Linked DNA regions of Homo sapiens: all the other regions are linked to region 1. Evidence: fine-mapped expression QTL. A gene starts in region 1. Each other region holds a variant in brackets. All regions are shown on one strand. Distances are between the middles of the regions. Region 1 holds the start of NHSL1 (NHS like 1). Region 2 has its middle 35 kb from the start of CITED2. Region 3 has its middle 23 kb from the start of NHSL1-AS1. Region 4 holds the start of LOC124900217 (collagen alpha-1(III) chain).

Region 1 (2,687 bases):
TCAATCTTAATACACAAAATCCACAAAGACCTGACTTAACCCTCATTTGTGTTTCAGAAGAATCTAGCATTGGGCCAAACTCACCATATGTCCCCCCAAAGTGTAGCCAGAGTTCATCACAGTGTTTTGTGCTGATGTCCATTTATTTTAAAGACTGAGTTACCATACTTCAGAGTTAGAAACTATTGAAAATGGAAACTTTTCCTATTCGACAATTTCAAATCAAATCCAAGTAATGGCATTCGTGTCTGCACCATCAATCGCACCATCGGCCCCACTGCACAGCTACCAACTGGCTCCTATGAAAAAGTCTCTTCCCCTCGTGTTCCTCACTCTCGCCAGGGCCACTTTTAATCTGTTCATCCAAAGGCAGCCTTTAGCAAGGAGCTGCAGAAAATCAGCCCACCGTGCTGCTCTTTGTAGCTTTCTCCAAAGCTCCTCTTACCAATGCCCCTACCCATGTTCATTTATCCAGTATAAGTCACTGGTCCAAACACTAAACTAAACTAAAATAAAATAAACCACCGACTATGTAAAAACAAAGCCAAGTAGTTATAAAAATTATTATTTTCAAGAGAATGAAGAAGCACCTACATTAAAGAAATGTAAGTCAATGGTAAGTACACAATAAAGCCACATCACAAAAGTTCTGTACCTTACAACAATCACTGATCAGTCTAGACAGTTTGTGCTCGAGCTCTTAAATACACAACAAAGAGTGCCAGGGAGTTTCAGGGGATTATCTCCACCAGAAATATGTGATACATTACACAGAGGCTCCCTTACCTCAGCTGCATATTTATCCAAAGAATCAAAAAATCATACACTTGATATCAAGGGAAACATAAATTAAGTACAAGAATTTCCCCCCTCTTCAAAGGACTTCTTTTGAAAAGCACAGAAGAAGTGAATTCACTTAAAACCCCAATCATAAATAAATAAGACATGCTAAGATCACATAATACTGTCCTAGAGTTACAAAAGTCTGAGGTATTTAAACAACCTGGTATAGAGTAGAGTTTAACTCATGCCTATTACGCTGTTTCACACTCTAATTTCTTCACACAAAAGAACGAAGGACCTAAAACACACACATGGACACACACACACACACACACACACAGACACACAGGGACATATACACATATGGAAACATATGCACACAATAGGTAGTAGAGAGAAAAGGAACTACTTACTTTTCTTCTTAAAAAGTTTAATTAAAGACTTAATCTTTGCATTAATGAAGACCACCATTTCCAGGGCACCTACATAGAGCTTAGAAATGTAAATCACATTAAAAGCTCAGCCCAGTAGGCAGGTGGCAAGCTTCGTCCTTCTGCTACAGATTCTAACTTTTTCTTCCCCCGGTCTCATATCCTTAGACATCTGCCCAGGCTGATGTAACTGAGGTTGAGTTTATTGTCAGGCAGTTACAAACCATTAACAGTCCTTGAACCTGAAAAACTCCTACTGAAACCTAATCTTTAAGGCTGAGAGCAGCCAGTGACATCGTGCGCTGAAAGAAAGAGAAAGCCAATCACGGTTCTTATTTGCATGACAGCCACATCAGGCTTTCTGCCTCAGTGCCCATTCATTCAGTTTTCTCTCCAACAGATCAGAAGTTCCTCCTCTCTGAGCCCACAAAAATAGTGCAGACTTTCCTCTACGGAAGTCAAGATGAAACAAATGTGTTCCCCATTTCATTAGGCCCCTATGAACACCCAGATCTTTTACAGGAGCTGCCAAGTCTGACAGCAATTCCAGTTAATTCAGGGTATATGGGATTTGAACTGATTTAGGGGGGAAAAAAACCAAACTATTGTTTCCCAACCACGCCCCAGGCTCTGCCTCCGATACCAAAGGAACTTGTACAAGCAGTAAAACTTTAGAATAGAATCTCCAAGGAGCTGCAAATGATGACTTGGTTGCATTTTTGTGCAAATTAGGATGCTCTGTCTTCTCACCCTTCTTTGCCAGTGATTGAGAATCAGCATTGTGTGTTCCAAAGCATGATCTTATTTGCATCTAGCTGCCACAACAATCAAGAAAAAAAAAAATCCACCAAAAAAAATACAACTTCCCCACTCCAAATGATAAATTAGATAAAGTACCCTAATCATTTTAATCTTTATTTTATATGTAATTGTCACTTAGGCTCCTGGTTTTCAGAATTCCATAATCGCCCTTCCCTCAATGTTGTCTCAAACAAACATTATCTGAGTTACTCTTTAACTTGAATCTACCATCCAGAGTGCTGGTTCTTTTGCCCATTGGCAATTAACCACAGAGAACTAGGGAAGCACAAGTAGAGACAGAGAAATCAGAAACAGAGTATAAGAAGGCACTGAAAAAACATATTCCAGGGGTAAAGGGATAGGAAAAAAGAGGAGAATATAGATCCGGAAATACTATGACAACGGAAAAAGGAAAAGAATCTTCCTCACATCTCAGCCCAGTTCCACTTCATGGCCAAACACTTTTGAAACAATTTAGACAACCTCTTATTTCATAGCTTTGGGCCAGACTTATAACTCAATGGAAAAATGTAATAATCCACTAATTCAAAACATTTAGTTTATAACAAAGGCTCTTAGTCAAAGAATAAAATTTATATAAGGGGCTCTGTCTAGGGAAAGCTTTGAAATGATTCCTTCTCAGGTCTTTTTATGCCCTTTATTTTTTCAACA
Region 2 (2,687 bases), 840 kb after region 1:
CGTTATCCAGAAGCACAGTCTGTGGCCAGTGACATTTTATGAACGGATTCCACCAATGTGGATGCTCTGTATGTACGCGGACCTTGCCTTTATTATGAAGATTGTACTGAGTAGGCAGTTGTTCAGTTTTTTGTACAGGCTCTCAGAGTGGTTCCTGACCATGAGAAGGCCTGCCTTGCGTGCAGAAATGCCAGAGCACTTAACGCAAAGAAAGAAGACTGGAATAAAGCGTTTAGGGAAGGAAATTACAAACTAGCTGATGAACTGTACGCAGAACCCCCGGGGTAGACCCCGACAACATAAAAGCAATTGCTAAACTCTACTGTAACCGGGATATGGTTAATTCCGAGCTTGGGAAACTAGATGATGCAATAGACAGCTGCACAAATGCAGTGAAGCTCATGACACTTACATAAAAGCCTACTTGAGAAGAGCTCAGTGTTTCTTGGACACAGAACAGTATGAAGAAACAGTGCGAGGCTATGAAAAAAGTATATCAGATGGAGAAAACAAAAGAATACAAACAGCTCCTAAAAAATGCACAGCTGGAACTGAAGAAGAGTAAGAGGGATAATTACTACAAGGTTCTGGAAGTGACAAGAATGCCTCTGAGGACAAGATCAAGAAAGCTTATTGGAAACAGGCCTTGAAGTACCATCCACATCGTCATGATGGAGCCAGCGCTGGGGTTCAAAAGGAGGAGGAGAAGATCAAGGAAGTGGCGAGGTCTTTATCATCCTCTTTGATTCCAAGAAAACGATTCATTATCACAGTGGGCAGGACCTGGATAAGGAAGACATAAATTTGGGTGATTTTGATGCAAACAATATCTTCAAGGTATTCTTCCGCGGTCCTACGGGCTTCAGCTGTGAAGCATCTGGTCCAAGGATTTTCTTTCTTCGATTGGGCTCATGAAAGGCAACCATCCAGAATCCAGAAAATGCAGAGTCGCTCAGTTTAAATGTAATCAGCAGATCATTTCTATTAAGAGAGGAATATTTAAATCTCAAACCATAATTTGTCTGCCTCTCCTGTAGATCTATCAGTTTTTTGCTCAATGTATTTTATTATTAGGTGCATAAATGTTTAGATTTGTTTATGACCTTTTATCATTATGAAATAAACTTGAAAAATCCCATGTAATATTGTTGGCTGTGAAATCTATCATGTCTGGTAGTAATATAGTCACTACAACTTTCTTATAGTTAAGGTTAGCTAGATTATCTTTTTCTGTCTTTTAACATCTAACGTGTGTGTGTGTGTGTGTGTGTGTGTGTGTGTGTGTGTGTAAATGAATAACACCAAAAACAGTTACTTTGAGAAAATCAGTGAAATTGGTCAATCTCTGGCTAGACTGATCAAGAAGAAAGAAAATATATATGGAGAGAGAGTACATTTCTTATATGCAGCATATAGTTTGGTCTTCTGTTTTTTTCTTTTCTTTTCTTTTCTTTTTTTTTTTGAGACGAAGTTTCACTCTTGTTGTCCAGGCTGGAGTGCAATGGCGCGATCTCAGCTCACCACAAC[C/T]TCCACCTCCTGGGTTCAAGTAATTCTCCTGCCTCAGCCTCCCAAGTAGCTGGGATTACAGGCATGTGCCACCATGCCCAGCTAATTTTGTATTTTCAGTAGAGACGGGGTTTGGTCAGGCCGGCCTCGAACTCCTGACCTCAGGTGATCCGCCAGCCTGGACCTCCCAAAGTGCTGGGATTACAGGCGTGAGCTGCCGCACCCGGCCCTGTGTTTCTTTTCTGTTTGACAATCTCTGACTTTTAATTGAGATGTTTTGACAAAGTTATATTTAATGTGATAATTGATAGATTCAAGTCTGTCATCTTGCCATTTGTTTTCTGTTTGACCCATCTCTTCTTTTTCTTCCCTTTTCCTCATGTCTTTGGTTGAAGAACTTCCTTTGATATTTCTTTTTTTTTTTTTTTTTTTTTTTTTTTTTTTTTTTTGTGGTGAGATGGAGTCTCACTCTGTTGCCAGGCTGGAGTGCAGTGGCGTGATCTCAGCTAACTGCAATCTCCGACTCCCGTGTTCAAGCGATTCTCCTGCCTAAGCCTCCTGAGTAGCTGGGATTACAGGTGCGCACCACCAAGCCCAGCTAATTTTTGTGTTTTTAGTAGAGATGGGGTTTCACTATGTTGGCCAGGATAGTCTTGATTGCCTGACCTTGTGATCCACCCACCTTGGCCTCCCAAAGCACTGGGATTACGGGCATGAGCCACTACGCCCAGCCTGACATTTCTTATAGAGCAAGTCTGTTGCTGATAAATATTTTCAGCTTTTGTATATGTGAAAGAGTCTTTATTTCACCTTAGTTCTTGAAACATATTTTGCTTGGTATAAAATTCTAGTTTGACAGTTTAATAATTTTTTTGTCAGTACATTAAAGATGTTGTGTGTCACTGTCTTCTCACTTGCATTTTTTCTTATACGAGATCTGCTATAGTTCTTATCTTTGTTTCCCTAAATATATTGTGATGTTTTTCTCTGCTTTACAATGTTCTATCACTTGTTTAGGAAAATTTAATTATGATGTGCCTTAGTGTCGTTTTCTTCACATTTCTTGTGCTTTGGGTTCATTGGGCTTCTTGAATATGTAGATTTATGCTTTTCATTAAATTTGGAAAATTATTGGCCATTATTTCTTCCCATTTTTTTCTGTTACCCTCTCTCTTCTTTTT
Region 3 (2,687 bases), 220 kb after region 1:
TGTTGGTAAGGACATTAAAGTTTTATCAAACTAGAACATTTATGAAATATGAGAATCTTTCATCAAAGAACAGTCTTTCTGTAGTTTAAATGCAGCAATTATAATCCCAACCATGCTTGCTAATCTTAGCTACCGGGAAGTTAGAAAGAGAGAAAGGTAATTCATAAGACAGCTTGGTACCCAAAACCACCTAGGTTTTTGTGGTCTATAGTCAACACCTCAAATTATATCGAGAAACAAACAGGCAGCCAAAGGGAAATGTAGACTACAATTCTAGCAACCTATAATTTTATTCCTTGTAGTTTGTGCCTCTCCACTGCAAAGTGGCTCTAGTCTGCCTGGTCCACAGCTTCCAGTTGGCCTCTTAGAGTGTGTTGCAGACATCCAGCCAAAAGCTCACTATGACCATCTAGAATAGTGCTCCCAGAAGCTGTCATGGAGTTTTACCCATAATGGGTGCTCACCCCTAAATATCTGTTAGTAATGATACCATGACAATTATGGCAAGCGAAGACTGACTCTGGATGATCTGGCTCACAATCCCACCCAGATCAACTTGCACAGTCACTTATACATGAGTCATGGTCCTGATTCTATTGTTGAAATAAAAGGTTTGGTGAAGTGCTTTTACACCTTGAGAGTGAAGAGATTAAGTCAAGGCCAAGTGTCTCAAACTTGAGGGTAAGAATGGAGAGTAGAAAGCTGACCATAACAGAAAGGGCCCATATTTTTGAGTTATGACACTGATTTCCTGCCTTAAAAATGACTGACATTTTCAAGGCACCTACCATTTACTGGGGATTATGCCAAGGGCTTTTTATGCCTCATCTCATTTTATATCTACAAACAGGCAATTTTATTAGTACTGTTATTTTGCAGGTAAGGAAACAGATTCAGAGGGGAAGCATAGCAGCAAACGGCTAGTACCTGAGGGAAAGACCCTAGATTTAAACGTAGCCTGCTGGCCTCAAGAACTTGGACTCAAGAGCTGGGAAACATCATGCCAATGTTTCCCAAAGTTTGAAACAGAATCTCTGGCAGTCTGTGACAGGATTTTATTTGGTGCACAGATGCTTCATTAAATTTTGAGAAAGTTATTTTCTTTGAAGTTCTTTCAATTTTTCTTTTAAATCTA[A/G]GTTTCCATTTCAGGTCATCTCTTTGCTCATGCATATGAGTATATACTGTTAGAAGCAACCAGGCCACATCTTGAATGCTTTGCTGCTTAGAAATTTCTTCTGCCAGATACTCTAAGTCATCTCTCTCAAGTTCAAAGTTCCAAAGATCCCTAGAGCTGCCAGTCTCTTTGCTAAAGCATAGCAAGAGCAACCTTTACTGCAGCTCCCAGTAAGTTCTACATCTCTGTATGAGACCACCTCAGCCTGGACTTCACTGTCTATATTACTATCAGCATTTGTTCACAACAATTTAACAAGTCTCTAGGAAGTTCCAAACTTCCCCTCATCTTCCTGTCTTCTTCTGAGCTCTCCAAATTGTTCCAACCTCTGCCCATTACCCAGTTGCAACGATGCTTCCACATTTTCAGGTATCTTTATAGCAATGCCCCACTTCCCGGTACCAATTTTCTGTATCAGTTCATTCTCTTATCGCTATAAAGAACTACCTGAGACTGGATAATTTATGAAGAAAAGAGGTTTAATTGACTCACAATTCTGCAGGCTGTACGGGAAGCACGGCTGGGGAGGCCTCAGGAAACTTACAATCATGGTGGAAGGTGAAGGGGAAGCAGGCACATCTTCACATGACAGAGCTTGTGAAGAAAGAGGGAAGGGGGAAATGCTACATACTTTTAAACAAGCAGATCTCGTGAGAACTCACTATCATGAGAACAGCAAGGGGGAAGTCCACCCCCATGATCCAATTACCTCCCACCAGGCCCCTCCTCCAACACTAGGGATTACAATTCAACATGAGATTTGGGCGGGGACACAGACCCAAACCATATCAAGACCTGAATGGCCAAAACAACTTTGAAAAAGCAAAACAAAGTTGGAGAGCTAACTCTACCTGATTTCAATGCTTCCTATAAAGATATAGTGTTCAAGACAGTGTGAGATAGAAGTAAAGGTAGACAAATAAATCAGTGAAACAGAAAAGAGAGTGGAGAAACATGCCCACACATAAATGGAAAACTGATTTTCAACAAAGGTGCAAAGGCAATTCAGTGGAGAAGGGATCATCTTTTCAAAAAATGGTGCTGGAATAATAAAACATCCATATGCAATAATAATAACCTTTTATCCATGCCATGTGCCATATACAAAAATTAGCCCCAAATTGATCATTGACCTAAATGTAAAACCTAAAGCTAAAAAACTTCTAGATGCTAACATAGGAGAAAATCTTTGTGGCCATGGGTTAGGCAGTGATTTCTTAGATACAACACCAAAATGATGATCCATTTTTTAAAAACTAATATATTGGACTTAATCAAAATTTAAAAATGCTCTTTGATGGATACTGTTAAGAGAAATAGAAGACAGACCATAGATTGGGAGAAAATACTTGCAAAGCACATATCTAATAAAGGACTTGTATTAGAATACAAAGAACTCTTAAAATAAAGAAGTTGCCCTGCAGTAAAAGAGTGAAATTGAGAAGCAAAATGAGTCCTGGCAGCATTGCCTAAATGTTGCTAGACTGGGGCTAGATGTAGCTAGACTGGGGCT
Region 4 (2,687 bases), 190 kb after region 1:
AAATATAGCTAAGTTTTTCTAGCTAGCTGGAAAACGAGCTATTCGAGATTGCATATGAAGTGATTCTAGGAGAAAAAACTATTTCATCCAGAGCTGCTGAAATCTAGGCGTGTGTTACATCAACATCTCCCCTCCCACCCAGCAATCCATCAACCATCTCCAATTTATTCTTTACACTTAGGATTATGACCAAGTTCACGTACTTAAAAGGGAGAAACCACAGAGACATCACACTGAAAGTTTCTCTGCTTTGGGCCAGCAGGAAATTCCAGTTGCTTCATTCACCGGAGCCAGTTAAGCTGCTGAAATGAAATGGATCACCGGAGAGATCACTATATCAGGACATAGACTTGACTTTCAGGGTTGGAGGAAGCCGGACAAAGATGAATGGGATTCAGAGCCTGAACTCAAGGTCAACGTCTTCTGAATCACAAAGAGCTGGTGGGTCAGTCTGGGAGAAGAAAGAAAATTCTGCGCCAAATGGGAAAACCCTTAAAGTCTGCATAGTTTTGCTTGTCGGTAAGAACACAGGTAGGCGGCGGGAAGAGAGGTGGCAAGCAGCCCCAACGCTCGCCGAGATCCCCAGGGTTTTACAAACGGATCGTCCTGAAGTCTCCAAAACTGTAACTACTATATGCCCAAATTTATATTCTCCCCTGGCTTTTCCAACAGGCTACCTGCCTGTGACAGTTTTCCCACGAACTTGGCTCTCCTCTGTCTACAGCGCCCCGGGGTCTCCCAAACAGACAGACACAGACAGACAGAAGGAGCAGACAAGGGGACTGTCCAATTCCCACCCTCCGCGCCCACTCTCTCGAGGTAGCCAAGACCCTCCAGGAGTCCGAAAGTCACAGAGCGCTCTGCGCCCCTGCCACCTGCCCAGCCTCCCGCTGGGGTCCGGCAGTCCCCACTGGAGACCCCGACATCGCGGGGCTCCGCGGCCCCCGCGCCGACCCAGGGCCGCCAGGGGGCGGGCGGGAGCAGCTCTCCGGGTGCCTCCCCCGCCGGTTCCCCTCCCCCGGCCCGCCGGCCACTCACGGATTTTCACTCGGCGGTGGTCCAGGCGCGCAGCGGCGGCTTGCAGGGCGTCGAGGCGGCGGTGCAGCGCGGCGGTGCGGTGGCCCAGCGCGGCCGCCTGGCCCTCGAGCTCGCCGAAGATGTCCCCGGCGCAGCGCGACAGGTCGGCCAGCTGCGCCAGCAGGCAGCCCAGGGCATGCGAGCTGACCTGCTCCAGCGAGCGGAAGAGTGGCGCGCCCGCAGCCCCGGCCCCCGCCGCCTCGGGCCGGCGCAGCCGCGCGGGCTCCAGGGTCCTCTGGTGGAAGGGCATGGCGGGGGCGGGCCGGCGGCGCGGGATCCCTCAGTCTGCCTCCCGTCGGCGCGGGGCGCCAGCCTGCATCCAACACAAAGGAAGTCCCGGGCAGCGGCGGGGCGCCGAGGGAAGCCTGGCGGCCCCTGCCCGCAGGGGAGAGGCCGGGCGGGCAGGAAGGACGGACGGACGGACGGGCGCGCGGGCGAGCGGGCACCCGGGCGGCGCGGGGCAGGAATGGGGTCCGAGCCGTGGCTGCCTGGCGCCCGGCGGCGTTCCTCCACCCGCAGGGC[T/C]TCGCGGGCCGCGCGGCGAGAGGAAGTTCCAGGGGCAGCTCTGGGCGGCGGCGGCCGCGGCGGCGAGGGGAGCCGCGAGTCCCGCTGAAGTTTGCAGGCGGGCAGGAAAGCGCCGGCTGCTCCTTCCCTCCCTCCGGATTGGAGAGGGAGGAGGAAGCGAGGGAAGTGCCGCCGACACCGGGCGAGAGGGAGGGGAGGCGAAAGAAAGGAAAGGGGGAGGAGAAAAGGGCCGGCCCGGGAACCACCTGCGGCTCCCGCGGCTGCCGCGCCCAGCGCCCGCAGCCAGTGGCGGCCCCGGCGCCTCAGCGCACCCTGTCGGGGCGGGTGCGGGCGCACAGTCCCGGGACGCCCACGTCGCCGCCCCAACTCCCCTTGGCAGCCCCCGGGCGGTGGGGCAGAGCCCTCGCCCGCCCCCCGGGCCGGGGTGCAGCGCAGTGCGGGCGCCGGGAGGGCGGAGGCGCCAGGACGGCCGCGGCCAGCTCCGCTCGCTCTGCTCACCTGCGCCCCTGCCCACGGCGCTCCGCAGTCAGGAGCGCCCCGCCCCGCGGGGAACGCCCCGGGCCCCTCGGGGTCCCCCTGCTCTCTCCTACTTCCCTTCTGGAAGGTGGCCAACACTTCTGGGCCGCCCGGGTGGACCTCAAATAGAACGTCTTTAAATGTCCGGTGGCCAAGGGTTCTGTAGCCGACTAGGAGTCAGCGTCCGACTCGGAACAACTCAAGACCTCTTTTCAGGGGGCGTCCAGTGAGTTTTTTTCAGCAAGGTGACTCCCCCTGTGGCTGCCTGCTACTACAGCTGGAAAGGTCCAAGCTGAAATGTGACTAATCTGAGTTTCTTCCACCAAGCATGTTAGTTAGGGGTGGAGGACTAGAACCTAGAACCCTGAATTCGAGCCTGGAAGATATGTAAGCCACATGCTATTGAGATCGTGGTCATGGGACACCCGCTAACACAAACCTTCTGGTAGGAAGTTTTTGAGAAGACTGGGTCCAATATCCCCAAGCTAAAATCCCACTGGCCCATCGCTGTGTTTGCTCAGAAAAGGAATCTGGGTTCTTTGGTTTCTGCTTTCCAGTTGACCCTGGTTGCT

What was found. PIP is the estimated chance that this variant, and not a neighbour inherited with it, causes the effect.
Region 2: its variant is fine-mapped to the expression of NHSL1 in gastroesophageal junction (GTEx, PIP 0.95).
Region 3: its variant is fine-mapped to the expression of NHSL1 in whole blood (TOPMed, PIP 0.98).
Region 4: its variant is fine-mapped to the expression of NHSL1 in whole blood (INTERVAL, PIP above 0.99).

Annotation. Positions count from the first base shown.
Region 1 is chr6:138,498,037-138,500,723 of GRCh38, forward strand. NHSL1 (NHS like 1) reads right to left here and starts at 1,458. Exons shown (of 8, transcript NM_001144060.2): 1 at 1,197-1,458. The coding sequence starts at 1,254.
Region 2 is chr6:139,338,672-139,341,358 of GRCh38, forward strand. It overlaps the pseudogene LOC100129844. Among named protein-coding and RNA genes, the nearest start is that of CITED2, 35 kb to the right of the region's middle. The variant C/T (reference allele first, on the strand shown) is at 1,528.
Region 3 is chr6:138,713,518-138,716,204 of GRCh38, forward strand. No RefSeq gene overlaps it. Among named protein-coding and RNA genes, the nearest start is that of NHSL1-AS1, 23 kb to the left of the region's middle. The variant A/G (reference allele first, on the strand shown) is at 1,136.
Region 4 is chr6:138,691,438-138,694,124 of GRCh38, forward strand. It overlaps LOC124900217 (collagen alpha-1(III) chain), which reads left to right and starts at 1,289. Exons shown (of 2, transcript XM_047419637.1): 1 at 1,289-2,687. The coding sequence starts at 1,326. The coding sequence ends at 2,255. NHSL1-AS1 (NHSL1 antisense RNA 1) reads left to right here and starts at 231. Exons shown (of 4, transcript NR_033896.1): 1 at 231-531. It also overlaps a transcript of NHSL1 not described here. RefSeq lists an enhancer at 1-825 and silencers at 948-997, 1,008-1,357, 1,838-1,897, 1,938-2,077. The variant T/C (reference allele first, on the strand shown) is at 1,600.